3 separate regions of the Homo sapiens genome follow, and all the other regions are linked to region 2. The links come from fine-mapping of genetic effects on gene expression. A gene starts in region 2. Each other region holds a variant in brackets. All regions are shown on one strand. Distances are between the middles of the regions.

Region 1 (10,442 bases), 140 kb after region 2:
ACCCTATAAAATGTACAATTTTATCAATTAAAATATAAAACAAGTAATCCACTAAATAAACAAAAAAATGTGTTAAGGACCAAGGACTTAAAGATGAATAATGTCTAAATTTTAATAATAATAAAATCTCCATAACGATTAGAACAGAAGACATAGAAATATAGGTTTTAAAGAAATGTGTAGAATTTTCTGTAACATATGTCTACCCAAATTCCGAATCCCACACAAAATTTGGTCACGTAATGACTCACAGATGTCTTTTGTTGGCATTTCCAAGAGGCATGATATCAATTCTATGTAAGCTACTTTCTTGGAATATGAGTTTTATTTATTTTACTGAGAGATGAGATAGCCTGTGAACATTTTTTTCCTGGCTTAAAGTTACATTTTTTCCACATCTTCCTTTTTCAGAGATCCATTAATTTTTCCAGGTTTAGCAGGAAGAAAGCATAAGTTGTGGCTGTGTAAATGGTGTTACTATTTGCTTATCTCCATTTTAACAAGTATGGGAGTAATAAAGAACATATGTAAATATTACTGGGTATGGTGAAATAAAGAACATATGTAAATATTACTGGGTATGGTGAATGTTCCTTGGATCAGTGGTTCTCCAAGTGTGATCACTGCACCAGCAGCATTAGCATCACTGGGAAAATTGTTAGCAATAGAAATTCATGGAACTCCATGCCAGACCAAGTGAATCATAAACTCTGGGATGGTGTTTAGTCATCTGTGTTTTAACAAGCCCCTCAGGTGATTCTGATACACACTACCATTTGAGAACCACTACCTTACCTTAGAGAAAACAGTACTCCCTTGAAATCCTCAGCACAGGAGAATTTGGGAAACACATTACCTGCTAACGTCATTTGCTCCCATAAAGTATTATAGTGCAGGCCAAAGGCGAATACCCCCCATTTTTGAGATTAGCAATTATTATACCTTTGGTTGTAAGGAATCACCTGTTATAAGATTCCACAGTTACTTTCCTAGTAGTTTCAACATGTCAGGAAATATGTAAGGCTTAGTGAATATAGAAGTGAACAGAAGGGAAAATATATCTGCCCTCATTAATTTTTAATAACAGTTAAGAAGCAAGTAAATAAATATACAAACAATTGTGATAAATTTTGGAAGAGGAATACTAGCATGTGGATGTACTCACAGAATGTGGTTGGGAAAAGGGATTGTTATGCTAAGAGCTGGTTGTAGAGTCTTTCAAATGTCCTGAGACAGGAATGGGCTTGGCCTTTCTTAAAAAACAATAGAAACCCAATGTGACTATAACAGGATGAACTGAGAGAGACCTGGCATGAGATAAGCTTGGATTTCTACGCAGGGCAAGATCATGCTATTCCAAAAGGATTAGTCTACACCTCTCCATGCCTGATTCCTCATCTCCTATGAACATAAAACTTAGATCTATTTTCTTATAATCAGAATCCATTTAACAAATTCACTTTCCCAGCTTGAATTTAAGGCTGCAAATACTGGTTCTTGCCCATGTTTTCCCATGTGGCTCAGTACCCTGGAGACCAGTCTTAGCTCTGTCTGTAAAACTCTTGTTTTTCTAATATTAGTATATAATATGAACATCACCCAGCACATTTATTAGACCTTTTTATTAAAATTTGGCCCATGGTTATCTTGTTATATATTGCTGCATAACAAATTTTCCCTTAACTTAGAAGTTTAAAGTGATAGATATTTATTATCTCATAGTTTCTGCAGGTCAGAAATCCAGGAGTGGCTACTGCATAGTTTTGGCTCAGGGTTTCTGATGAGGTTCCAGTCAAGCTGCTGATCAGGGCTGAAGTCATCTGAAGGCTTGACTGGACTGGGAGGATCTGCTTTGTTTTTAAGATCATTTATGCTGTTGTTGGCTAAAGACCGTGGTTCCTTACAACATGGGCTTCTCTACTGCGCTGTTCATGACAGGACAGTTGGCTTCTCTCAGTGTAAATAATCCGAGAGAGAGAGAGAGAGAGAGAGAGAGAGAGAGAGAGAGAGAGAGAGAGAGAGAGCAACCAAGATGGGACCGTGTTTTTTTTTTTAACACTTATTATCAGAAATGATATACCGTCATTTCTGCCACATTCTATTGATCACAAAGACCAACTTTGCCACAATATGAGCAGGGAGGAAACAAGATTACAAATCCTAAATGGCAAAGATCTTTGGGAGCCATCCTTGAGGAGACTGTCATATGAATTTTGGATTCAGGTTTATGGCTTTGAGCCTTGGTTTTTCATTTTACCAGTTGCATGTATGTTTGTTTGTGTGTGTATATATACTTATAATTAAAGGTTATTTTTACCTCTTTGCTTCTCATCCATGATTTCCAGTCATGCACTTTCCTGAATATTTTGCTTGCCGGTCTGTCCCTTCCTTGACTGTTTTGTCTTTAGCTTAACAGCAATCACAATATGGAGGCAATGGCATCTACTGAATATGGGAATAGTCCAGGAGCAACCCTCAGAAACACAACACATTTGAAACCTAAGATGAGTTATGAGGAAAGACCATATACATTTCAAAGTATTAGTCATGAATCTCCAATAAAGCCATTGTCTTATAGCTGAATTTCAGCCTTGAATTTTTATTTTGTTAATTTTCCAAACAGTTTTATAAACATTGTGTGTTAACTCAAATAATATGCAATGCACAAATTTTGCTGAGTCCAGACCTCTTTTGAAAATACTCATATTTTTCAAAGGGAGGAACATCTTAGATATTAGTAGCAGTTAATAGTTAATGAAGTTAAAATTAGCAAAACACCATTGTCTTTTTAGTTTTTTATTTATCTTTTGCACATGGTATGTATGTTTTCTGAACACTTTGGTTATAAAAATCTGCTCAGCCTGATATTTTTTCCAATAAAACATTCTTAAATCATACCTCTTTCAGTGAGGCTCATGAGACCCTGTTTAACAAACAAATGGAGGAGCTGTTGAGCTCTTAATTATACTCACTTAGTTTCATGAAAATTTGAGATAATGAACTTTGAGGTATTTCTTATGGGTACTAATAACAAGTGGTTGGAAATTATAGGGTTCTCTATGCCTTGCTGCTATTTTCTTGTTAATTATACTTATTACTGTGAAGCTCTATTGCAGCAACATATGTATAAACTAAATACACTCAATTAATTTGCACTATTTTAGAAACTGTGTTTATTAAGCAAAACAATGCCAAGACTCTCTGATAGAATTTAAATGGCTGGGCTTAGGAGATAATAGCATTTCTTTAATTGAAACCATTTCTGAAGCTTAAATGTGATGTTTATATGATATCTTTCCCTCTGTAACATCCTTATGTGGATGAAGATTATTCTGGTTAAGAAGTGAAATACTGAAAATGTCACTTGGTTTTTATTTATGGTTATTTTTTACTAAATAATTTCTGATGCTGAAATAGCCAAACATGTTTGCATGTAAAATTAAGCTTGGTACCATCAAGGGTAGTAAATATTAAAGTGAAGGAAATAAGAACGTTTGGGGAAAAACTCTTGAGTTCTTCTTCTGTTTCTCTTGGGAAATTTATATTCCAGTACTAGCATTATCTATGCATATGCCCACTTTCTCTAGCAGATTTTGACCTCTCTGGGCAAGAGCTGAGCTTTGTTTGTATTTTCTACACGGCACTGAGCCCATGGTATAGAATATAGTGAGTGTTTTATAAAATAATAATGAATAAGGGAAACTCTCCAGGACCCTGGGTCAAGATGAACTGAAAAATATAGCCTATAAATTGTGATATACTTAACTGAAATAAATAGTTTAACAGAGAAAGTGAGGAGTTGAGCAGAACAAAGGGTGGTAAAAATGTGTTTCAAATAAGATGTGAGGGATCCATAATTCAGCCTCAGGAGAGAAAAGATGTCGCCACTAGTTCAGGGGTTAAAACTATATTTCTGTCTATATGAAATAGTTGAGTGTGTTTGGAAGGTGGACGGCACCAGGTCAAAGTGTCCTGCTAGCTTCTCCTAAACTCTAAATAGCATTGTCCTAGCAATGTTAAACATGCCCAGTCCTTTATACTGAGGAGGAGTCATCTAGGCTGTCTTAGTGTACAGGAAGGATTTTGGGTTAAACTCAGTATTTAGTAAAGTTTAAATGAACTTTTTCAAAATAGCAAGAAATGCTTGACTTTGGTAGCTATGCTATCCAGGTTGATTGGAGTTTCATAACATAAAACTAAAAATTCATTTCTACTAGTCATGCATATTGAAATCTACATTTAGTATATGATACTGAGGATGATAAAGTGGCAGGAGGAACCCTGCAGATATGAAATGCAACATAGTAAGATAAAAATTACATGAATTTTATATGAAGACTCCTAGGTTTGAGTCCTAGCTTTTCTATTTACAGTTGTGTAATCTTAAAGAGGCTGTTTTTATCTCTTTGTTTCTTAGTGTCTTTGTATGTATAATTAAGATTTTATTGTTAACTGTGAAGAACTAGAAAACAGGGCTTCTGAGTATTTGAAAGCCCAATAAATGTAAAGTACAAGAGGAGAAAATGAGGTATGGTCTTAAGAAGGTAAACCCCTGATTTCTTTGGTGGTAGGGAGTAGATGGGAGAGAGAGGGCAAAAAGGAAAAAAGAGAAGTGAGAGGGAGAAAGAATGAAAGAGGGGGAGGAGAAAGAGAGAGAAAGAGAGAGAGAAAGATGTGGATCTGGTAAAGATTTCCTTCTGAGAGTAGGACTTCATTATGGAAAATGCTCTGGGATTTTTTTCGAAATGGTTACTTTATTTCTTCCTCTGCCAGAAACAACGTGTCACAGAATTAAAATAAATTAAAAAATGTTTCCTAGCCATCAACAGATAATATATCCAGAATATTTTTCAATGGCCTGAAGTGTAATGCCTTGACATTATCATCTAAGAAAGATTAGCTTAGGCTCATTTCTCCAAAGAAGTGAAGTAGTATTTTGTATAATTACCTAGTGCATTTAACTTTTATTACAAATTATTCATATAAATACCATTTCGGCCCTACTTGATTTAATCTTATATTATTTCCCAAATTTTTAACCTTATTATACCCTTAATTGCCAATTTTGCTTTTTCTTC[T/G]TTTCTCTCACCACTAAATCTGTGTCCAATTCATTTCTTTTAAGTTCTTTGTCTGGGCCCATGAACTAGTGTTGCTGATTGAGGATATGCAATTATAATATCCAGTATGGCAAGTTTATATAGACATATATTTAACCCAGTTTCCATTTGCTCCAAGAATTGTCTGTAACCATCATATACATTTCTGTTATATTAGGATTAGAGACAAGTTCTGTTTAGAAATAACTCCAAAAACAGTTTTTATACATTATTTTCACATTGAAAATCAGTCAGATCTGCTCCAGCCTCAAAGATCATGTTTATGTAAAATTAAATGAGTGCTGGCAGCAAGCTGCACTTTTTTTTTTCCTAAATAGGAAATAGGTTAAGCTCTCTAATTCATTTCTAGGCCATGTCCAGTCTTTTAATGAGCATATCAAAGACATTCTCTGTTTCTGTTACAGGGTTTTTGATCTCTAGAATTTTCTTTCCATTTTTTTTTTCATGGAGTTTCCATCTCTCTGCTTACATTATTCATCTGTTCTTGCATATCTATTTTTATGTTTTCCATTAGAGATCTTAATATAAGAATCAAAGTAATTTTGACTTCCTTATCTGATAATTCTGTGTCATATCTGAGTTTGGTTCTGATGCTTGCTTTGTTTCTTCAGATTGTGCTTTTTTGCCTTTTAGCATGCCTTGTATTTTTTTATGAAAGCCAGATATGATTATTAGGTAATAAGAACTGAGGTAAATAGGTCTTTGGCATAAGAAGTTATGTTTATCTGGCTAGAAGGTAGGCTGTTTTCAATATTTGCTGTGACTGTAGGAGCCAGAGCGTCAGACTCCTCTAGAGTCCTGGTTTTTGTATCCTCTGTTGTCTTTGTGTTTCCATAGAGACTCCTTTTTATTTAGGATCTGAGCTTTATTTAGGATCTGCTGTTCCTTTAGTTGTATTCATTGTTATTATACAGGAGTCCTGTTGATGTGATGGTAAGGGGTGTGTGTGTGTGTGTGTGTGTGTGAGTGGGTGGGTAAGTGTTCTATTATACTGCAATTGGGACTCAGTCTTTTTGTGTGTCTCCATCCCTGGGCTGTTGCCTTTCAGGAATATTTCTTAGCTTCCTTTCCACCCTTTAGATGAGGTAGGAAGGCTAAATGGAGCTGGAGTGGGGTAATTGGCCTTCTCCCAGTTCAGATATGGACCTGGTAAAGATTTCCTTCTGAGAGTAGGACTTTCTTATGGAAAATGCCCTGGGATTTTATTCAAAATGGTTACTTTATTCTTTCCTTTGCCATAAATATGAGGATTTCAAAAAAAATCTTTACAGAGTGAGACTCCATTAGGTAAAACCTGTGAAAATATGGGAGTCGCTCTAGGACTGAAACCCTCGGAATTGTCACTTTCACACTAGTCTCCAGCAATTCATCAAAATTACTATTTAAGTATTCACACCAGTTTGTGGCCTAACAGTTCTGTTCCTGTTAAATTGATCTTGGCTGTGATTGCCTGTATTTGGCTATGAATCTCTGTATTCTCCAATCTCTCCAGAGTCTGGGGTTTGCCCTGTTACTTCAATTCTCTGATGCATCTGAGAAAATTTGTTGATTTCAAGTTTGTTCAGCCTTTTTCTTATTGTAATAATGGGAGTGACAACTTTGAAACTGTTTACATGTTGGAGCTGAAAATGAAAGTCCCTCTGATAACCAGATAGGGCCACCTAAAATCATGCTCATTAGGCAGAGCAAGCTGGTCTAGGCACTGCAAAACATATCAACTCAGGTGAGTTGGTTAAAATGAGTGAAGGATGAAATAAAATCTATCAATTCACCTCCTAGTGCAGAGACTTGCAAAAAACTCATAAAAAATATGGGATGATTTCTTACAGTCCTAAGCAAAAGACATAGTCATACGATAGTTCTATCTTTTGTGTTTCTGTAGCACTTTCACTTTACATATTTTATGATTCATATTGTGTTATAGTTGGCTCATTATATGTAAGCTTTTTGAAAGACTTCAAACTAGCATGAACAAGACCACTATTAGAAGAGATTACAACTGATAAACAATATTGTGGAAACAAATACACAGTGTGTGATTGAGAGTATAGCCAAAACTATCTGCATTTTAAGTTTTTTACTTTTATATGACCATCAAATATTTAGCCCATAATAATGTGGATCCAACCCCACCAATTCTCATAAAGTACTTTTACAAAGGCCTCTACAAGTTAATTTTTCTTCTTCTAAGTTTCACCACTTAACCAAACTATAAGCTAATCACCTGTATGACTATCTCTATTCTCACTAGATAGGAGGCTTTTTGAAAGCAGGAGTGATGTTATGAGCCTGTTGTATTGCTGGCATCTAGCACAATGTCTAACACATAGTAGGTTTTAATAAATACTTTATAAGTGAATTAATGAATGAAGGTCACTAATACCAGAACTACAATGTTCTATACATACACAAAAAAAGGGCTGACCTTATCAGTAAAGCACCACGAACATATTGTGAAACCTTTCTCCTTTTAAGGACAAACTCATTATTCTCTATTTATAGCATGCACAAGGAAGCTGACAAAATCAGGAAGAAGTAAGAAAGCATGCATCATGAACATTGGAATGTGAGACATTTCCTCCTGTATTAATCATATTTTCAGATTCTGTGTTGACTATTTGACATCTATTATTCCTAACCTCTCCATAAGCCTGCTGGATCACAGGGCCAAACTAACAACCAATATTGTTTACATCTTTACCGCAAGTTAGCTTTCATGGACATGCAGAAGTTGTATTACAATCCTCCCAACCACTAACCCTGACCTGCCTGTTTCCTCTTAGTTCCCAGTAGGGAACATTTCCACCTAGTTACTTTATTCCACGATTGTCATACAAGTATAGTCCCAGTTCCTCTGTTTGTCTGCTTTCCTACCCATGCATATGACAGACTTTGGGTAGCCTGTATGGTATGCTATGCCTCTCATTACCAGGGGAAATGGTGAGTATTAAAAACTTTCTTTCAATGGCATTTACTTCTTTGTGTCATCACTCAGTTACATGTATAAGTTAAGAAGTTGACACAATATAACCTCTCATCATCAGGGTGTGTTATGAAGTAATCTCACTTCCTTTAGCACTGAGATTTTCCTCTGCTTTCTGCTATTGTCCCCATAGGAGATTGATATGGTTTGGACTTGTGTCTCCACCCAAATCTCTTCTCAAATTGTAATCCCCAAGTGTTGAGGGAGGGACCTGGTGAGAGGTGATTGGATCATGGGGGTGGTTTCCCCCATGCTGTTCTCATGATAATGAGTGAGTTCTCTCGTGATTTGATGTTTTGAAAGTGTGACACCTGTGCCCCTGCCCCACCTGCCATCATGTAAGATGTGTCTTGCTTCCCCTTTGCCTTCTGCTATGATTTTAAGTTTCCTGAGGCCTCCCCAGCCATGCAGAACTGTGAGTCAATTAAACCTCTCTTTTTTTTTTAAATAAATTACCCAGTCTCAGGTAGTTCTTTATAGCAGTGTGAAAATGAACTAATACAGAGATATTCAGAACTGTAAGCATAATTATCAACTTCAAATGTGGAGTGCAGTTTCTTAGCCACTCTCCTTCTTTTTCCCTGCAGCCTACCCCAAATTGTAGATCATAAGTAGCTGGGCTGCAAAACTGTCTTAATAAACTTGGATTACTCCAAAAGTTTTGAATTAAAATGTTAGCACTTATTATATATTGATTAATTTAGCTTTCTAAGTGTTCTGAAAGAATACTGGGCATAAAATGTAATTGCTTTAGTTAATAGCTATTTGATTGGATGTTGAGTGTCATTTGATCGTTTACCCTTAAAGTCTTTCAAACTTTAAACTGAAATTGAAAAATGTCTGGTGGGATTAAAGTATGTGAGTAACTTTAAAATAAAAAATAAAAATAATCTGGTGAAAACCATAAGAAAATAGAGAAAGAGGGAAGAAATAGAGGAGACAGAAATCTTAAATGTAATTTTGTTTTTTCTGTAGTCATATTACATTTATGTATTAAACTTATGTTTTGCTGAATTTCTTAAATCCTTGTGTCAGTGTCTTTCATCTGCTTTTGGAAACTCTTGGCCATTTTATCTTAAATATTGTGTTTGCTTCATTCTCTTTTTCCTCTCATTCTGAAACTCCAATTATAGGTATGCTAGATCTTTTCTCTTTATTTCACATATTGCTTACATTACTTTATGTGTTATTCATTTTTGTACTTCTGTCTTTTAACACTTTTTAATTATTAATTTTTGGTAACACCAATCTTTCTTATATCTAATGTGCTATTAATCTCACCCACTGGTTTGTTAAATCAATATATTTTTAAAATCAGCTTTAGAATGTCTACTTCTTTTTTCTTATAGATTTCAATCCTCTTACATTGTCCATTTTTTGTCTATTTTCTCTATATTTGTCTCTATATTCTTGGCGTTACCAATCATAATTAAAGTCCTTGACTGCTAGTGCCAATACATGAATCACTTTTATATATGGTGTATATCTGGTATTTTCTAAATCATGAGTGGTAATTTTTTCCTCATTTATTTATTTTTTATTTCAATAGCTTTTGGGGGGTACAGGTGGTTTTTGGTTAGACAAATAAGTTCTTAGTGGTGATTTCTGAGATTTTTGTGTACCCAGAGCACCCGAGCAGAGTACACTGTACCCAATATGTAGTCTTTTGTCTCTCGCCCCCCCCCCATTTCCCCCTGAGTTCCCAAAGTCCATTATATCATTATTACGACTTCACATCCTCATAGCTTAGCTCTCACCTATAACTGAGAACATACAATATTTGGTTTCCATTCCTGAGTTATTTCACTTAGAATATTGGCCTCTAGTTTCATCTAAGTACCTGCAAAAGGCATTATTTTGTTTATTTTTATGGCTGAGTAGTATTCTATAGGGTGTATATACCACATTTTCTTTAACTACATGTTGATTGATGAAGACTTAGGTTGGTTCCATATTTTTGCAATTGCAAGTTGTGCTGCTATAAACATGTGTGTATGTGTCTTTTATAGAATGACTTCTTTTCCTTTGGGTAGATACCCAGCAGTGGACGTTCTACTTTGAAAGGTTGATCTACTTTTACTTCTTTAAGGAATAGTCATACTGTTTTCCATAGTGGTTGTACTAATTTACATTCCCACCAGCAGTGTAAAAGTGTTGCATTTTTACCACATGCATGCCAACATCTATTTTTTTTTGATTTTCTAATTATGGTCATTCTTGCAAGAGTAAGGTGGTATCACATTGTGGTTTTGATTTGCATTCCCCTGATAATAAGTTATATGGAGCATTTTTTTCATATTTTTTTTTGGCCATTTGTATACCTTCCTTTGAGAAATGTCTAT
Region 2 (9,677 bases):
ATACCCTGCCCTCCCACAAATTACAAAACAGACATGGGATTGGAAATGGGGATGTTGATAAAATTTAGAGTAATTTTCCCTCTTTTATTACCAAACTAATTTCTGATAAAAGGAACAGAAGAATGAAATACTTATTCTTGCATTACACCATAAGAAGTGGATAGAAGTTAGGTGCAGTATACAAGGAAATATGTATATGCACATATTAGCTATATATGCCTAGAAAATATATATATACACATATAAACATATACACATATTAGCCATAGCTAGATATACAGATAAATTATTCATCATTTATTTTCTAAACATTCAGAATTATTATACTGATACAGTTTAAATATATGTGCAGATTTAGAGAAAGACAATGATAAATCTATCCTCTCAAACGTTAAAAGCTTCAAACTCCCCTCCACACAAGACTGGAAAAAAAATTGGGAAAGAATTAACAGAAAGATCACAAACTACATTTAGCAACCACATATCACACCAGTTACAAAAAGCAGTGGAAGTCAAAATATCACTTTACCCTGCTCTTGAACAATGTGATACCTTACCAAACACTCATTCTCTATCTTGTGTTCAATTTCTAAAATGCCTAATTACCTCAACTTTACATCTACACCCTTATACTTCCCCTACTTAAAAACCCATCCACATGACAGAATTTCACTTGTAGATCTCTCCTGGAAGGGCTGACATGTACAATAGTTCAAGTTGTTCACTGAATAAGAGCATCCAGGTGAAGGGACAAGTAACAGCTGAGATTTTAGATTAAAAATGGTACACATTCCTTCTCATGATTGTTAATGAGCAGTAAGGTCTATGTTCCCTTGTCTTAAATCTTGGCAGACTCTGAAGCTGTTTGAGCAGTAGAATATAGTAGAAGTGATTCTGTTCTAGCTTACTGGCTTAGACATGAAGAGACTGGCAACTTTGACTTCTTCTTGCTTAGAAACACTTGCTTTTTTTTTAAGAAGTCTTGCACTGTCGCTTGGGCTGGAGTGCAGTGGTGCGATCTCGGCTCACTGCTGCAACCTCTGCCTCCCAGGTTTAAGCGATTCTCCTGCCTCAGCCTTCCAAGTAGCTGGGACTACAGGCACCCCCCACCACGCCCAGCTAATTTTCTGTATTTTTAGTAGAGACGGGGTTTCACCATGTTGTTCAGGCCGGTCTCGAACTCCTGACCTCAAGTGATCCTCCTGCCTCGGTCTCCCAAAGCGCTGAGATTACAGGCGTGAGCCACTGAGCCCGGCCAACACTTGCTCTTATAACCCAGCCACCACCATAGGAGGAAGGCCAACACCGAGAGGAACTGAAACCCCAGGAAAGTCTTAGCTGAGCTCCCAGCCAAGAGCCAGCACCAACTGGCCAGTCTGGTACATGTACCTAAGTCAATATGCTGCAGCCCACACTGTGTGGACAAGACATGAGCAAGCCCTGCCTAGTCCCTCCCAATCCCAAATTTTGGAACAAATTAATTGAGTAAAAAATTTACCCCAATACGTTCTGTGTAACATTCAAACTCTTTACCATGCCATTTTTAGTCCTTACCAACCTAACTCTGCCTACCTTTTCATACTTCTCTCCTACTACTCCTTAATCAAATCTCCCTCTCTAGCTAGATTTGATGATTTCCTGAACACACTTTGAGTAATTCTGCCTCCCAAACATACACTGTACCTTCTACCTGAGCAGCTCTCTTCTGTCTCTGCCCACCCTCTCAGATCATGAGCCACCTTCTTTTCAAAATCTTCCTAACTATTCTACTTCATTTCTCTCTAAGTCTGTGGCTCTTTTGCTCTGTCTCATTTGGTACTTATTTATAGCTTGGGTCCATTAATCATTTTCTTCTTGATATTCTTTATTAAAATAACATGTAATTTAGCGCTACTCCAAATCTCATTCAAACTGTTTGCCATAATCAAGTGTGGAAATTGAAGGTAATCATTTAGAAACTTTTGTAGCAATTTGATAGAGTAATTTTATGCACATTGAACCTTATCATAAAATAATTAGCCTTGTCTTTGCCATATCATTTTCTAGTAATTAGTATTTTTTTAAAAAAGACTTTTTTCAGAACAGTTTTAGGTTTACAGAAAATTGAGCAAAACATACAGAAACTTCTTATATAATCCCTGCCCTTCCCCATTCCCTGCAACCTCTAGTATTAACATCACACACCAAACTGGTACATTTGCTGTAATTGTTGACACATCATATTACCCAAAATCCATTGTTTACATCAGAGTTCACTCCTGGTATTATACCACAAGGGAGTTTGACTAATAATTGATTTTTAATTGCATTTTACAAAAGTATCAGTTATGACTGATTAGAAATAAAAAGCAAAACTGGTCTAACAGAGTTTGAGAAGTACTGTTAACAATGAAACCTACTTGAGGCACTAGACTATAGCACAAAGTTTCTCAACCTCAGCACTATTAACATTTTAGATGGATCATTCTTTGTTGTGGAGACTGTGGTGTGTATTGTAGGATGTTTAGCAGCATGCTTGGGTCTACGTAGACCGTCAGATGCTAGAATACTTCCAACCCCTGAGTAGAGCCAATCAAAATTGTTTCCAGACATTGCCAAATGTCTCCTGGGTCAAAATCAACCCAGGTTGAGAACACTACCATAATGGTTAAGAGCAGTCCTGCAACGAGGGTAAATTGTTCAAGCTCCAAATCTAGCCCTGCCACTTAATTAACTGTATATCTTTGGGCCAGTAAATTAACTCATTTTCCCCATTAGTAAAACGATTAATAAAAGTACTAACATTAAAGGCTTTTGTAAAGCAAAAATGATGTAACAAAGAATATATAAACCACCTAGAACGGTATTTGAGACATAGTAAGAATCCAATAAACAAAAGACATTGTTTCTATCACTTCTGGGCTACTCACAGTGCATATAAAAATGAATAGGTATTTTGTCCCATTCTTAGATCCAAGGGAAACCACAGCTTAGTGATAGTGCACAGGTAGAGACAGATATGAAAATAATTACTATGTGTATTTATAAATGTTATAAAGAGGCAAGTGAGCGAATGACTGTCTTAAACTGGTTTGTGCTATGGGTAAGAATGTACAGGCATAACTCTTTTTATTGTGTTTCACTTTATTGAGCCTCGCAGACACTGTATTTTGTTGTTGTTGTCTTACAAACTAAAGGTTTGTGGCAAGCCTGCACTGAACAACTATATTGATGCCATTTTTCCAACAGATTGTGCTCACTCTTCACATTTCTGTGTCATATTTTGATAACTCTCACAATATTTCAAACCTTTTCATTATTATATCTGTTATGGTGATTGATGTTACTCTGTAATTGTTTTAGGGCACCATGAACCATGCCAATATCAGACAGAGAACTTAATAGGTAAATGTTGCGTTGTGTTTTGACTGCTCCACCAACTGGCTGTTCCCTGCCTCTCTCCCTCTCCTTAGGCCTCCCTATTCCCTGAGACACAATGATATTGAAATTAGGCCATTTAATAACCCTACAATGGCCTCTAAGTGTTCAAGTGAAAGCAAAAATCACACCTCTCTCACTTTAAATTAAAAGCTAGAAATGTTTAAGCAAGGTGAGGTAGGCATGTCAAAAGCCAAGATAGGCTGGAAACTACACCAGTTAGCCAAGCTGTGAATGCAAAGGAAAAGTTCTTGAAGGAAATTTAAAGTGCTATTCCAGTGAAGACATGAATGATAAGAAAGCAAAAACAGCCTTATTACTGATAGGGAGAAAGTTTGAGTGGTCCGGGATTGAAGATCAAACTAGCCACAACACGCCCTTAAACCAAAGACGAATTCATGGCAAGGTCTTAACTCACTTCAATTCTATGAAAGCTGAGAGAGGTGAGAAAGCTGTAGCAAAAGAGCCTGAAGCTAGCAGAGCTTGGTTCCTGAGGTTTAAGGAAGTAAGCTATCTGCATAACATGAAAGTACAAAGTGAAGCAGCAAGTGCTGATGCAGAAGCTGCAGCAAGTTATCCAGTTCTAGGTAAGATAATTGATGAAGGGGCTACACTAAACAACAGATTTTCAATGAAGACAAAACAGCCTTCTATTGGAAGATGCTATCTAGGACTTTCATATCTAGAAAGAAGTCATTGCCTGGCTTCAAAGCTTCAAAAGACAGGCTGACTCTCTTGTAGGGGCTAATATGGGTGGTGACTTGAAGCCAATGCTCATTGACCATTCTGAAATATCCTAGGGCTCTTATTCTTTTAAATCTACTCTGTCTGTGCTCTGGAAATGGAAGAACAAAGCATGAGTGACAGCACATCTGTTTACAGCACGGTTTACTGAGTATTTTAAGCCCATCTTTGAGACCTACAGCTCACAAAAAGATTCCTTTCAAAATAATACTGCTCAATGACCACGTACTTGGTCACCCAAGAGCTCTGATAGAGATGTACAAGGAGATTAATGCTGTTTTCATGTCTGCTAACACAACATCCATTCTGCAGCCCATGAATCAAAGAATAATTTTGACTTTCAAGTTATATTATTTAAGAAATACATTTTGTAAAGCTATAGCTGCCCTAGACAGTGATTCCTCTGATGGATCTGGGCAAAATAAATTGAAAACTTCTGGAAATGATTCACCATCCCAAATGCTAGTAAGAACATTCATGATTCACGGGAGGAGGTCAAAATATCAACATTAACAGGAGTCTGGAAAAAGTTGATTCCAACCCTCATGGATGACTTTGTAAAGGTCATGACTTTGTTCAAGACTTCAGTGGAGGAAGTGATGAAAGATCTGGTGGCAATAGCAAGAGAAATAGTGGAGCCTGAAGATGTACCTGAATTGCTGCAATCTCATGATAAAACTAGTGGAAAAGAAGTTGCTTCTTATGAATGAGCGAAGTTCTTGAGATGGAATCTACCCCTGGTGAAGATGCTGTGAATATTCTTGAAATATCAACAAAGAATTCAGAATATCACAAAACCTTAGTTGCTAAAGCAATGGTAGGGGTTAAGAGGATTTACTCTAATTTTGAAAGAAGTTCTACAGTGGGTAAAATGCTTTCAAACAGCATCACATGCTACAGAGAAATCTTTAGTGAATGGAAGAGTCAACTGCTGTACAAAATTCATTATTTTGTTATTTTAAGAAACTGCCACAGCAACTCCAATCTTCAGCAACCATCACCCTGATTGGTCAACAGCCATCAACATCAAGCAAGACCCTCCACCAGCAAAAAGATTAGGACTTGCTGAAGGCTGAGATGATTAGTAGCATTTTTTAGCAATAAAATATTTTAAAATTACAGCATGTAATTTTTTTTTACACATAATGCTATTGCACACTTAATAGGTTACAATACAGTGTAAATACAACTGTTATATGCACTGGGAAACCAAAAAAATCGTGTGACAGGCTTTATTGGTCTGGAACCGACCCCGCAATATCTCGGAAGTATGTTTGTACATTATTCATAGAAAAAGTATTATTCTAATAACATTTTGAAATATTTAGCCAAAAAGTAGAAAAATGAAGCATCCAAGGGAAAACAGTAAAACTCGGACGGCAGGAAAGCTCGGAAAAAACACAAAAAACCTGGCGTGTTCAGGGACAGGATAATCCAGCGAGGCTTTTAATGTGTATAGGAGAAGTGAAAAGAAATAAGGCTGGTACAGTAGTTTGCCGCCAGACTATATGCTTTAGGAGAGAGGGAGGCATTCTAGGTTGTCTTGTTTTTCTTACCAGCTTGTTGATACTCATGGGACTCAATTACCTCAATTTAGACCTCTATGTGGGCACAAGAGTGAGTAGGACTCCTGGAGAAACACAGACACTAATGTCCAAGGCTGCACTTGACTTCACTAGTGCCCGCGGGAGAAATTTAGCAATGAGGATGAGCCATGAGGATGATTCGGGAGAAATAGGAAGTATTCATGGCTTTGCTCCCTCCCCCCTAATCAAACATCTCAATCTCAGGATCCTAAGGGCAGATCTTTTAGGACATCGGGCATTTCCCCGTAAGCAATCCCCCCTCGCTATCCTCAAATGCAAACTGCGGAGTCTGCCACAAACGCGTTGGCTTTAAAACTCATCCCTGAACTTTAGATCCACCCAGCCGGTTAAGGATATCACGACTCACCACTGATTCTTCTTGCACCCTTCTGAGAGCCGCGCTTAGAGTAATTCGCGCCCAAACATTCGTAAACAGAGGAGACCCGGAAGTGGGTGGGAAGAAAGCGGAAACGGGCATCTAACCCTACCCCTAAACGTCATCAGGAATGCGCCCATGAGAGCGCTATTAGATTGGCTGGAGGGAGGGCGGTGTCGGCCTACGCCCCCAGAGTCGTCCGGCTGACGCTGGCGGTGGCGCGGTTTGTGTGGGCTTGGTGAGGGCGGGGAGGCCTGGCTGTGTGGATGTCTGACAGGTGAGGCGGGGGACGCAGAAGTGCAGCCGCCCTCTCCCACAGCGGAGTCCAAAACAGGCCTACCAGTGAGTAGGACGTACACCTTTCAGATCGCTCCATTCTTCTGGCTCCTGTCCCTCCTCTACCCCTGTATTTTGAACTTTTGTCCTTTCTCTCCCGCTCTGTCCTTTACTTCTGTCTTCTTTACCTTCCTACTGTGACGGGATCCCACTCTCTGCCTTCTCCTTAGGTTTAGATTTTCACTTCGACCAACCTCTAGTTTTGGGCGAAGTCCCTGGCAATTCGGAGGTACTTCTGGAAAGAAGGTGCTTTTAATACTTTAGGGGCCATGTCGGTATCTTCTTTGGCCACTTAAGCACCCTGAACTGTTCCCGTTGGCAGAGGTCACTTTTTGTATGGTTCCAAAGGGATGCGCCTGCTTCATGGCTGCCTCCCTTCTAGGTTGTGGGTTATGTTATTGTCAGGGTTTTTCTAAGAGTTTTCGGGAATAAAAGTGATTTTCTGTGTGTAAACAGGATTAAGAGTGTAAACAGTGTTAAGAGTGAGAGGTAGAATAGAAAAGACAGGTCTAAATTGACATAAAAGCTTACATTACTAACTCGTTCTCAGTTTTATCTAGAAAGAAGGTGGTCTTAGGGAAGCTCGAAGCCCTGGATAACGTATGTGTGTAAAGTTTTAAACCACTTGATGATTTTCTGCCAATATAATTTTGTGTTTAATGATGTACTTATGCTAATATCAAATATAATTTTCATGCCCTATGTTTCCATCTCCAAACCCAACTAGTTGAACATCAAAGTACCTTCTTGAAGTATTAATGTGCAATCATACGTCAGCAGCCAAAGCTTGAAACTTATTGGTTCAAGAAATCTTTTTCTCACTGATTTGTTTTTGAGGTGTGGGGGTGGGATTAATCATTGCTCTTTAACTCATTTTAGTTGTCAGTAACATATTTGCTTTGCATGTTGCTTCTTTGAATGCTTGAGGCCTCTCTTGATGGTCTTCTGAGAAAATTCAGAGGTCGTATTGCCATCCGCAGTAGTTGTGTTTTTATCTAAAAATGGTGTCTGTTTCCAGCCTCCACCAATTCACATGTGATTTTCAGGAAGTCACTTAAACGGGGCTCTTTCCTATTAGTTGTTCAGATTTAGGAAAGCCCACGTGAAATGAGTGTGATATTTCCTGCCAACAGTTTAGTCTCAGGTGGTTTTCAAATTACCTTTTACAGGATTACTATTGAAACAGTTTAGTTGTTGCTTCATTATTTTTTTCATCCACCTTTTAAGCTAGTAAATGTAGTGGATGGCTTGCAAAAAGATGGATGACAAGGACCCCATGGATTTAAAGAATAAAAATCGTGCTAGTATTAAAAAAATGGAAGGTTTTTTTGTTTTGTTTTGAGACGGGGTCTCTCTCTGTTGCCCAGGTTGGAGTGCAGTGGCACGATCTCTGCTCACTGCAACCTCTGCTTCCCGGGTTGAAGTGATTCTCATGCCTCAGCCTCCTGAGTACCTGGGATTACTGGTGTGCGCCACCATGCCCAGCTAATTTTTGTATTTTTAGTAGAGACTGGGTTTCACCGTGTTGGCCAGGCTGGTCTTGAACCCCTGACCTCAGGTGATCCACCTGCCTCGGCCTCCTGAAGTGCTGGGATTCCAGGCGTGAACCACCATGCCCAGCCTTTTTTGTTATGTTTCCATTTAGACTTTGTTCTATGTACTTTTTACATAGTTGAACCTGTTGCACTTACAATTACGTGTCTTGAGTCTTTTACTTACTACTTTTTGAGTTTGTTTCTCTTTTTTTGGGAAACTATGCATAACACATTTTTAACTTTTTACTTATACATATATTTACAGAAACTGCATAAAACATAACTGTATAATTTGATGAATTTCCACAAACAGAATATATCTATGTAAGTGGCAATCAGATCAAGACCATTACCCCCAAAAGCCCCTCTCTTGCTCCTGTTGTATTCTAGCAACCATTAAGTAACCATTCTTCTGACTTCTGACATCAAAGATTAGTTTTGCCAGCTTTCTAAACATATTTTGATAACTACATGAAATTCTATCATTTGTATATGCTGTAATTCACTTATTCATATGTTATGAGATACTTACGATTTTCCTAAGTTTTCTCTATTACAAATAAAACTATAGGAAACATCTATTTTATATATTACTACAGAAGCTTTCCCAGGAGTAATGTTCCTCAGTGGAATGGCATAAACATTTCTGAAGCATTTCATGTATATTGACAATTTACTTTCCAAAGTAGTTAAAATAGTTAATACTGTCACCAGTGGTTTATGTCTCTTGTTTAACGACCCCATAATAAGTGTTGAGTATTGATTTCATTTAAGCTTTACTAAACTGATAGGTAAGAAGTGGTATGGAAAATAAAATTTGAAACTCCCTTTACTTGTTGCCTTATCCAGTATAAAACACATAGTATAGTGAATATATTAATGTTTGCATCTCAATATCTTTTTAAACAATGGGCTCTATATGTTTACGCTGTATGACTCTGACAAGTTTTAGTAATTCAGGTAAACAGTTTACGGCTTTGTGAGGTGGGATTTTGATCAAGCGACTTTATTTCTCTGAGCCTCAGTTTCTACATCTGGAAAATGATGACGCTGAACCCAGCAACCTAGTATAAAAGTCTATGCTAGTTATCCGGAATATGCAGCTCTAATGTTGGAGCAGTTTATAAACTAGCACAGAAGTAGATTATTGAAGAGGCCATTTAGCTCACCTTATGGGTTCTGGGATGAATTGTGTGCATATTAGTTAAATGCAAGGACTTTGAAACAGGCTGCATAGGTTCCAATCAATGCTGGCTCTTCTGTGCCTCAGTTTCCTAATCTGTAAAATAAGGATAATAATAGTACCTACCTCTTAGGGGTATTGTAAAGATTAAAATTGCTACTCTCTGTGATGTCTTTATAGCCTTCTATGTTACTGGCACATAGAAACGCTGCAAATTGGAGATAATGCCTTAGCTGAATTAGCCAGAGAAGAACATTTTAGGCAGAAGGAAGAGCAAGAGCAAATTCAGAAAACTTTGACATATGTGCAGCCAACTGTAGGTAATCCAGTATTTCTAGTGCACAAAATGCATAAAGAGGACAAAGACAGAGATGGGTCTGAGGGGGAAACAGAGACCAGTTCATGAAGGCCTTGAATGCCTGTTTGTCTTATTCATCACTTTTTTCTCTATTACCCAACATAATGTCGGTCATAAACTGATATTTAATAAAAGCACTTTG
Region 3 (10,442 bases), 61 kb before region 2:
CTTTTACCTTTAATAAAACCTATTAAACTGTCTTCAAAACTATTTACCTACATACTTGCCCCCTCTTTACCTTCACAGTTGAATTTCAAATGGATTACACATATTTTCTGTAATTGTTTTTGCATTTAGTGTTATTATGTACATCTTTTCTGTATCACCAAACCTAGTTTTCTAGTACTCCATAAAATTTCATCGAATGCTTGTACTATATTTAACCAGTGAATTACTTAAAATATTTAGGTTTTTTCACCTTTACACACAATGCTGTAATAAACATCCTTTTATACAAATCTTTGCATACTTTTATATTATACCAATATAAATTTTAAAAAGTGGGATTTTTATGTAATGGAAATATGCATTTTTTTTCCAGATTTCAGGCCTGTTTTTTATTAACGAATATTCCTTATTGCAGTACAACTTGCATACAGAAAAGTAGATATATCATAATTATATAGCTTGATAATCATATGCTCTAGGCCCTGACTCACAGGGGGCGAGGAGGAGGTGGTTAGTCATGCAGATTTGCCTATGGAAAGACTGAGCCCAGCAGGGAAGGGCCTGGCTAAGTCAGGGCTGGAGGGAACATACTTGTGTTACCAAGTGGAACACAGCTGTGTAACAAAGTGTTACAAAGTGAACACACCTTTGTAACCCACCCAAGTCAAGAATCAGAATATTACTGGAAATCCAGAAGCCATTTCATGTCCAGTTTTACTTACTATCCTTCTGAAGGGTAATTACTTCCTGACTTCTACAGATATAGATTCATTTTGCCTGGTTTTAAACTTTATAGAAACAGGATTATGCAATATGCAGTTTCTGGCTTCTTTTTGGTACATATGTTTAAAATATTTGAGAGTGAAATATGGAATGAAGATGTTTCATTCCTAATGTATTCTTGACCTCTCAGCATAATTTGACACCATTGACCATCCCTCCATTTTTAAATTTTTCTTCTTTCTCTTCCATGGGAGTCATCTCCTGGCTTTCCTCCTATCTTCTGGCTGCTCCTTCTCCTATTCCAGAGCCTTTCTTTTCCCTTGCCTTAAATAGTTGATGCATTTAAGGTTCAGTCCTAGACAACCTCAGCTAAATTCATGGCTTCTGTTATCATCTATATCAGTTATCTGTTATCTATATCTATATTTATATCTATATCTATATCTATATCTATATCTATATCTATATCTATATCTATATCTGTTATCATCTAAGTCAATACATCTATCCCAAATAAATTCTCTGAGATTTAGACTCAAATATCCAACTTGGTCCCATCACTTGCATGTTTCAAAACTCAACATCCCAAAACTGAACAAACAATTTTCCCTGCTACAAATTGCTCCAGATCTGAGATTTTTCCAGGGTTTCTGATCTCAGTGAAAACTATCACCAGCTGTGGCTTTCACAACGTAGAAGCCCAGTAGTCATCCTTGACATTTCTCTCTCAGCATACCCTACAGCCACTAAATTATTAAGTTCTGACAACTCTTCCTTTTAAATAGTTTAAGTAACTGTTCACTTTTCACCATTATCATTGCTAGCATTCAGATCCAAGCTACCACCACCTTTTGCTTAGCTTATAGCCTCCCAACTAATTTCCAAACAGATTAATGCGCTGCTTAAGGCTTTTTTTTTGGTTTTTATATTACATTGAAGAATTTCCTTGAATTAACAAATAAAACCTATGTTAATCAAGCCTCTTCCTACTTCTTTTTGTTGAGACACAGTCTGGCTCTGTTGCCCAGGCTGGAGTGCAGTGGCGCTATCTTGGCTCACTGCAACCTCTGCTTCCTGGATTCAAGTGATTCTCATGCCTCAGCCACCCAAGCAGCTGGGCTTACAGGCATGTGCCACCATGCCCAGCTAATTTTTGTATTTTTAATAGAGATGGGTTTTTGCCATGTTGGCCAGGATGTTCTCTAACTCCTGGTCTCAAGTGATCCATCTGCCTTGGCCTTCCAAAGTGCTGGAATTACAGGTGTGAGCCCCCACGCCTGGCCCCGTTTCTACTTCTTGAGTTTTTCTCTTCTCCTTGTCCTCTCCTTACTCCAGACTTTCTCTGCACATGCCTTAAAAGGGTCAGAAACAGTGTTAAAAGTTGAGCAATTATATCCAACATAGTTAGCTGGAAGATGAAAGTAAGAAAATAGTATAAGAGCAATTTGGTAGGAACAAAAATCTTTCAAATATGGGGTCTGTTTTGGAGGTGCGGGTGAAGGTAGAAAATTCAGAATGTAACGAGATAAGGGAATAATTATTTACAAACTGTTCCAAGCTGCTTAAGAGGCCAATTAGCATAATGACTAGTAGTATAGGCTTTGCAATCCAACAAACCCATGTTCTGATCATGATTTGGCCACTTAGAGCCTGCATGACTTTGGTGACTCATAACACCTCTAAGCAAGAATTCCCACAACAAAGCAATACCTTATCCCTCACCAGGATTAAGTTATATACATCTCATATTTGGTACAATTATTAGCACATAGTTAAACGTTAAATGTCAGGCAAATTATCATTAGGAAGAAAATAAGGCTATAATAATATTGCTATATATCAAGCAGGATTAACTCATGCTTAAGCGATGCTAAACATAATTAGCGTCCTTAGGGCATATTCTCCTAAGAGGTTTATGGACTCTGGTTACTTGGTGCTTTCCCCTCTGGATCCAAGGCTAGATAAGTTTCCAGGTAACTGTGGGCTCAGGATGAACTAAGCATATATTTACTCTTACTGAGTCCTATTTTTTTAATTAAAATGTGTTTTACTTCAGCCAGTTTGCTTCCTTTTCTCAGAATGAATGCCTGAAAGTTGGATTTTCCCTTATCTTTGTAGTCAGAATTTTGTGACCTCCTTGGGGATAAGAAACCAATATTTTCTATATAGCTAAGTCAACATTATCAAGACAAGGCAAATCTAACTATTGTGTTAGTGCCTGCTTTTATTATAAATAGAGAACAGAGCTGGTGATGCTTATCTCTTTCTTTACTGACCTTGAAAGGTATACATACACAAGCAATCAGAACCCAAATTAAGAAATAATGACAAGAATAAGAGAAAACTAAAATTAATATTTTAATTATGTAAGCATTTTAATTTTCATTATAAAAAAGGATACATGATTTAGTGAAAATAACAGATTGGAATTAAAATGGCAGCATTCTGGCTTTGCCTCCAGTACTGATTATAAAGAATATAATCTTGAAAAAGTCATTTATTTTCTCTGGTCCTCAAATTTTTCATATGTAATCAAAGGGTTAAAATTTATTATCTTATCAAAATTCTATGAGTATATACCTATACATATAAAAGAAATGAAGAGAATGTATATATATGTGTATGCATATATGTTATATATTCATTTGCATACCCCCAAACACCCCTATATATAAATCTTAGTTTTATATGGGAAAGTAGACTATAAATAAGGGGGCTGAAATAGGTTATAGGTAAAGTCTAGTTCTATGGTGACAGCATTTGTTTATAGCATCAAAATGCCCATATTGTCATTCATCCAAGGCAAATAAGCAGTGGGAAGCTGTTAGAAATGCAAATTTTGGGCCCTACCTCGTAGAAGGAGAGGCCTAGTGATGTGTGTTGCAACCTGCCCTCTGGGTGATTCTGATAAACACTAAAATGTAAGAACCACTATATTTGAACATTCCCAGGGCAGTGAACTATAGGCTAGAGTCCTAGGCAGAAGTAAAGAGCAAGTAATTAAAGGGGAAAAAGGAGGTTACTCTACAGAGAACTTGGTGGCAGAGGTGTTAGGAACAGAGGTTGATGAGACATAGCAGTGGGGACAGGGGAATATGATGGCAGTAGGGAAGCGGTGTGGCTTTAAGAATACAGAGCAGAGGTCCAAGCAGCAATCAAAAAGCAGTAGCCACGTGGTCCTCTGTTAAATCATTTGTTCTCATGCAGTAATTTCTCCTAGTACACTAAAACTGCTGGCTTTAGAACCTATTCTCCTACAGTGGATCCTACAGGAGGACAATCGTCCTCAGTCTTCAGCCACAGCTACTCTTCACCCCCACAGCTATTTACTGGAGAAACCTGAGATACGAAAAATTAAGGCTTCTCAAGTGGATCCTGTATATATTCTCCAGACCCTTTCCAACAACTCAAGAGTCCCCTGATTCCCATTTTAACTCTCCCCTCGTTGGCAGCCAAGAGTGTGTGTATGCTCAGGGAAAGTAATAAAACCACTGCAGTTTTTTACTGGGCTAGAGGTGAGGCAGGCCAGAGAAAGTCGCAGGGGTGAGAATAAGCCTGTGGAAGCGACAAGGCAAGAACTCAGCATGGAGACTCTTCAGGAGGCTTATAGACGCCGTGTTGTCATCCAGGACGTTCCCCTGAGAGGGGAATCCCCGGCTTTGCAACTTCCTGGCCAGCGTGAGGGCCACCAGCCGGCTGTAACCTTTCCTGCGATGTTCTGGCAGGGTGTAGCCATGGCACATGGTGGCAAACTGGTCTGTGATGGACCAGGAGACCGGGTTTCCCTTCTCATCCCGGACACACACACTAGGGAAGCAGGAGATGAGGTTGGCGATGTACCGGAGACATTGTTCATTGCCTCCCCGGGACCAAGTCCGGTTGAGTAGATCCGCATTGGCAACACTCAGGTAGGTTAGTCGTGGGGAAGGCCCCTTGCTAGACCAGAATGACACAAAAACAAATAGGACCTCAGACTCATGTGGTTATACATAACTACACATTTTTTTTTTCGAGACACAGTCTTGCTCTGTCGCCCAGGCTGGAGTGCAGTGGCGTGATCTCTGCTCACTGCAACCTCTGCCTCCCGGGTTCAAGCAATTCTCCTGCCTCAGCCTCCCAAGTAGCTGGGATTACAGGCACCCGTCACCATCCCAGCTAATTTTTGTATTTTTAGTAGAGACGGGATTTCACGATGTTGGCCAGGCTGTTCTCGAACTCCTGACCTCGTGATTCACCCCTCCCGGCCTCCCAAAGAGCTGAGATTATAGGCGTGAGCCACCATGCCCGACCTATAACTACTCTTTTCATATTGGTTCAAACTGAGAAACCATCCCTGAGAGGGCACCTAAGATTTTCAGTGAGTTAGAATCCACCATTCCCGATTTACCAACACCTTTCCGGGTTTCATTTCTGAGAAGACAAAACACTTATTACATCAAATTTAAGTCGTTGCTTCTAATTTTATGTTCACTTGCTTTTGCCTTCAGCACAGGTTAAGGAAAGTGTTTCTGTTGTTAAATAAATTAAGTTTGGCCTGCAGCTCCCTCCATACCTTGAGTCCCCGCGTGTTGAACTGCAACCTAACTTGACACAAAACCAACCCTAGAACTATAATGCACAGCTGAGTTTGTTATACAAGTCAATCACAGGCAGGTAAGTGAGCAGACCATGCCCAAATATACCTAACTGTTGCCAATCAGAGGATTTACCTACTTTGCTTCTGTGTCTGGCGTATAAAATCTCCCACTGGTGGGTATAACTCTGAACTTCTCATTCTGAGTGCTGCCAGATTCATGAACTGTTCTTTGCTCAAATAAACGTTGCTGAATTTTTTTTTTTTTTTTTTTTTTTTTTTTTTTTTTTGAGAGCCTTGCTCTGTCTCTCAGTTTGGAGTTGCGGTGGTGCAATCTCGGCTCACTGCAACCTCCACCTCCCCGGTTCAAGCGATTCTCGTATCTCAGCCTCACGTGCGTGTGGGATTACAGGTGTGCCACCACGCCTGGCTAATTTTTGTATTTTTAGTAGAGACAAGGTTTCACCATTTTGGCTAGGCTGGCCTCCAACTGCTGCACTCCAGTGATCCAACATCCTAGACCTCCCAAAGTGTTGGGATTATTACAGGTGTGAGCCACTGCACCCAGACCAACGTTGCTAAATTTAATCTGTCTAAAGTTTTTCTTTTAACACTTTCTGTAAACAACAACAACAACAA[CAAA/A]AACCCTCAGAATTGCTTTTATTTAGTCCTGACTCTGCTGAAATCCTCTCTGAGGCCTTGGTAAGTCCAGATTCTTGAAGCCCTAATCTTTTGCTCAATAAAAAAAAAAAAAAAATGTTTTAGAATAGAACTTCTGTGGTTATGCATCCATGGCCAAAAAAGAAATAAAATCTCTTAATATGCCAAGCATATGTGCATGCTTTAGAAATGTTTGTTCTTTTTTTTTTTTTTTTTTTTTTTGAGAGGGAGTCTCGCATTGTTGCCCAGGCTGGAGTGCAGTGGCTCACTGCAACCTCTGCCCCCTGAGTTCAAGCGATTCTCCTGCCTTAGCCTCCCAAGCAGCTGGGATGACAGGCGCGTGCCAACATGCCCAGCTAATTTTTTTATTTTCAGTAGATATGGAGTTTTGCCATGTTGGCCAGGCTGGTCTCGAATTCCTGACCTCAGGGTGATCTACCCGCCTCGGCAAGTGCTGGGATTACAGGTGTGAGCCACTGCACCTGGCCATATTTGTTCTTTAAAACTGTCTCCTCGGCCTGCTGTTTTCTAGGTTAAATAGTACCAACCTTCAACTTTTCCATTGGCAGTATTTGTATAGGCCACTAGCTTTCACTGTATTTATTCTAATGGTATGAAAGTTTTTATTAGTTTACTATATAAAGCCCCTGATATTAAGATAAAGAAAAAGAATTGCTGCAATTTCTCAAAACTGAAATGGATTACTTAGTTGAAAGCCTATGAGGCTGACAGTGCCTCAGAATTTGCTCTCAGTCTTAAAGCTATTAATATCATAAGACTATCCCCAGTGACCGGTAAGAGATAATGTTCTTGTCATCATTTTTATAAAGTAAAAATTTGTGTTTTCTTTTAATTAGAGGTGTGTAGTGTTATTGCACATTTCAGGCATATTATCAGCTATGGAACTGGGCCAGTCATCTATCCACTAAGCAGGGGGAAAAAATTAGCTGGCCTAATGGAATTTTCAATTGAGTTTTTGAAAATGAACTTTAAAGCAGGCAGAAATATCACTGCAAATAAAATCATTGCTAAGGCAAGTGTTTCAGGAGTAGTTGTGTTAGAGACTCTGACCTTGTTTCCAAAGGGCTGGGTGTTCAAAATAGAGTTCACGCAGTTGAGTAATGACTTAGGTGTTAAAGGCAAATTGTTTGCATCAGTGTTGTGTGGGAAGTTAAGAAAAAAAAAAAAAAGACAAAATGTCTAACTGTATGCAGAAGAGTTCAAGTTAAAACCCCATTTCAAAAGGCTTGACTGGACAGAGGAAATTTTAAAATAATACCTCAGGCATACAATAGTAAACAGATTATGGGATACTTCAAAGAACAAATAACTTGGTTTCTTCAACAGAAAAGTAATGCAAAAAATAAAGATGAAGGGGAACTTATAAGTCAAAGGAAACTTCAGATGTATTAAAGAGGTCTATGTATGAACCTTGTTTAGATGTTGATTCAAAACAAGCTTAAAAATATTACGACAATATCGGAAATATGAATAATGTTATTTTACTTTAAGGAAATATGTTAACAGTATTTTAAGGGAATGTGCAGAAAAGACTAACATAGAAGGCTTGAGGCCATCGCCCTTAAAAAGGCCGAATTGCAAGGTTGACCCTTGGTTGGTGTCTGAGAACATGGATCTGGAGGGGGGCTACCATTTCCAGGACTCACATAAATGGCTCACTGTGATTAAGTTGTGCAAACAGTGTGGGTTTTGCTGAACATTGGCTTTCCTTCTGCGAGTCTAGGAAATCAGTCTGTGCTAGGCAGAGGATGCTGCCAATAAAATCCTGGGCACTGAGTGTCTAATAATAAGTTTCCGTGGTAGACAACTTTTAGCAGAGCACGGTGGCTCATGCCTGTAATCCCATCATTTGGGGAGGCCCTGACAGGAGGATTGCTTGAGGCCAGGAGTTTGAAACGTTTTACACATATCATTACAGGTCATTGCTTAGGGACTGAGCACATTCTGTGTGACTCCACTGAGAGAGAACTCTTGGAAGCTTGTGCCTGGCTTCCTCTGGACTTTACACAATGCTCCCTTTCCCTTTGTTGATTTTGCATTTTATCTCTTCATTGTAATCAATCATAGCCGTGAGTATATTTGCTGAGTCCTGTATGTCAATATAGTGAACCATAGAACCTGTGGGTGTTCTTGGGGACCTCGGACACAGGAGTAATATCCGTATAGTGGGTGTTTTTTTTTTAAGACTCATTTTTTAGAGTTACATATTAAAATATTTAAGGATAATGTCTGGGACATTTTCTTCAAAATAATCCAGGAAGTGGAAAGAATATATAGTTGTATGAATTAAATAAGGTCAGCTATGTATTGGTGGGAGGTTCTTTATACTATCCTTTAAACATTTATGTGTGTTTGAAATTTTCATAATTAGAAATACAATAAAAGAAAATCCAGTTGCTTTCCTATGACTTAAAATGTACATTCTTAAGGTTTAGTGCTGTTTTGCTCAACAATTTCTTCAACATTCACTGTAGGAGTAAAGAAAATTAACATTCGTTGAGGTGGGTGATTTTTAACTATCTTGCTTCAGTCTCTTGCAAAACAACGTGTCAGGAAAATATTACAACTTTTTTTAATATTAACTGGCTTGGTTTAATCATTCTACAGTATATACATTTATCAAGACATCACATTGTACCCCATGAATGTGTACAATTATTATTTGTTGATTTAAAATGATATTAATTTAAAAAACACTTAAAGGAACGAATTCAGAAGAAATTGAGACTCAGAAAGGTAATTAGTAAATGACAGAGCAGGGACTCCAAAAGAAGAATAAATGCAGATACAAACTAATGAGTGTTTTGAAAGATTGCATCTGGAGTTGGACTTGGGATTCTTTCTTGGCTCTATAATTTGCCCTTGTGTGTTACTTCATCTCTGTTTAAAAAGGTGTGTGGGGGTGGGAGGGGCAATAATAATAGTCCTACTTCACAGGGTTGTGGAAAGAACTAATGGGATAATATATTTAAGATATGTAGTCCCTGACACATAAGAGCGCAACATAAGTCAGCTATATACCCCCATCCCTGAAACAGCAAAATCAATAACAACTTTGGACTCAGACAGTATATATTATTTAGAATTATTTGAGGGATAAGGACACCAAGGAATGCTTTTTCCATGGATACTATGAAAACACAGGAATTCTGAGTTCATTTATAACTATGGACAAATATACTGATTTGATTTTCAATGAAATTATGAGCAGTCAAGCACAGGAGAGAGGAGAAGAGTAAACACACACACACACTCACACACATACTCCCGTTTGTGCTCAATGGTTGAAATCCAGAGTGCCTGGATATTCCATAGTGATACTAAGTACCCCAGTTACTGCTACGTGTACTTCTATAGCAGTAAGTCCTGCCCCAAATGCAAAAACTTGGTTTACATACAGGAAACTGGTATCTGGCAGAGATGAAACAGGAGAAAAATGAACAGCCTTGAAGGAAGTTAGCTTTATATTCAACTGCTTTGAATTGGCAACCGCTTTGGAAACATCATATAACTCACTCTGCAGCCCTGTGTATAGAAAGACATAATTTAATATGTGGGCATTTTAGTTGAAAAAGCAAAAAGGAAATTTGTTGCAGTAATTTTATACTGAGAATCATCAATACTAGCAGTTTGCCACCTTGTATTATCCTAACCACTGTATACTTACATCTAAATTATTACAGCTATTGTCTAAGTTTCAAATTTTTGTAGGCGTTTCAAATTCCCATGATGTTGCCCATTGGGACCACTCATCACGATCTTCATAGAAACTTATGATGGGAATATCTCACGGGACTTTAGAATTTCTTGGGAGAATATTGATACTTTGGACTCTCGGACTAACCTTAAGCTCCACGAAATAAAGGATGACATTTTAGAGCTCTAAAAGTCTATGAAGTATACAAGAGCTTAGATTTGTTTGGCGTGGCAAACCAACTTCAAAGACTCTCTATTACACCTCGCCATTACAGAACTCAAGGTGTAACTCAGTGTTGGTGAGATTTACCCTGAACTTACCTCACCCAGATTCCACTTGTCATAGTTATTTGATAAATCTTGATTCAGTAGGTGTTGTATATATATAAAGTACTGTACTAGACAATGTTCATAGTGGTACACAAAAATGGTATGGTTTCTTTTCTTTATTTTATTTAGAAACAGGGTCTTGCTCTCTTGCCCAGGTTAGAGTGCAGTGGAATGATCATAGCTTACTATAACCATGAACTCCTGGGCTCAAATGATCCCCCTCTTTCAGCCTCCTGAGTGCATGCCACCACTTGGCTGATTTATTTTTTAAGTTTTGTTTTGTTTTGTTTTTGTAGAGATGGGGTCTCCCTATAAGTCCAGGTTGGTCTCAAACTCCTGGCCTCAAGTGATCCTCCTGCCTTGGTCTCCCAAAGCGCTTGGATTACAGGCATAATCCACCATGCCTGGCCCTTCCTGGTCTTTGTTCTTAGAGAGGTTA

The links. PIP is the estimated chance that this variant, and not a neighbour inherited with it, causes the effect.
Region 1: its variant is the best candidate, but not a certain one, in a credible set for the expression of CENPQ in whole blood (INTERVAL, PIP 0.72).
Region 3: its variant is the best candidate, but not a certain one, in a credible set for the expression of CENPQ in whole blood (INTERVAL, PIP 0.59).

Annotation. Positions count from the first base shown.
Region 1 is chr6:49,323,773-49,334,214 of GRCh38, reverse strand. No RefSeq gene overlaps it. Among named protein-coding and RNA genes, the nearest start is that of MMUT, 130 kb to the left of the region's middle. The variant T/G (reference allele first, on the strand shown) is at 5,079.
Region 2 is chr6:49,459,891-49,469,567 of GRCh38, reverse strand. CENPQ (centromere protein Q) reads right to left here and starts at 6,198. Exons shown (of 9, transcript NM_018132.4): 1 at 6,115-6,198. It overlaps MMUT (methylmalonyl-CoA mutase), which reads left to right and starts at 6,315. Exons shown (of 13, transcript NM_000255.4): 1 at 6,315-6,465. RefSeq lists enhancers at 5,332-6,231, 6,576-6,645, 6,232-7,132.
Region 3 is chr6:49,520,705-49,531,146 of GRCh38, reverse strand. It overlaps GLYATL3 (glycine-N-acyltransferase like 3), which reads right to left. Exons shown (of 6, transcript NM_001010904.2): 5 at 9,376-9,502; 6 at 3,069-4,659. The coding sequence ends at 4,233. Among named protein-coding and RNA genes, the nearest start is that of C6orf141, 25 kb to the left of the region's middle. The variant CAAA/A (reference allele first, on the strand shown) is at 5,936.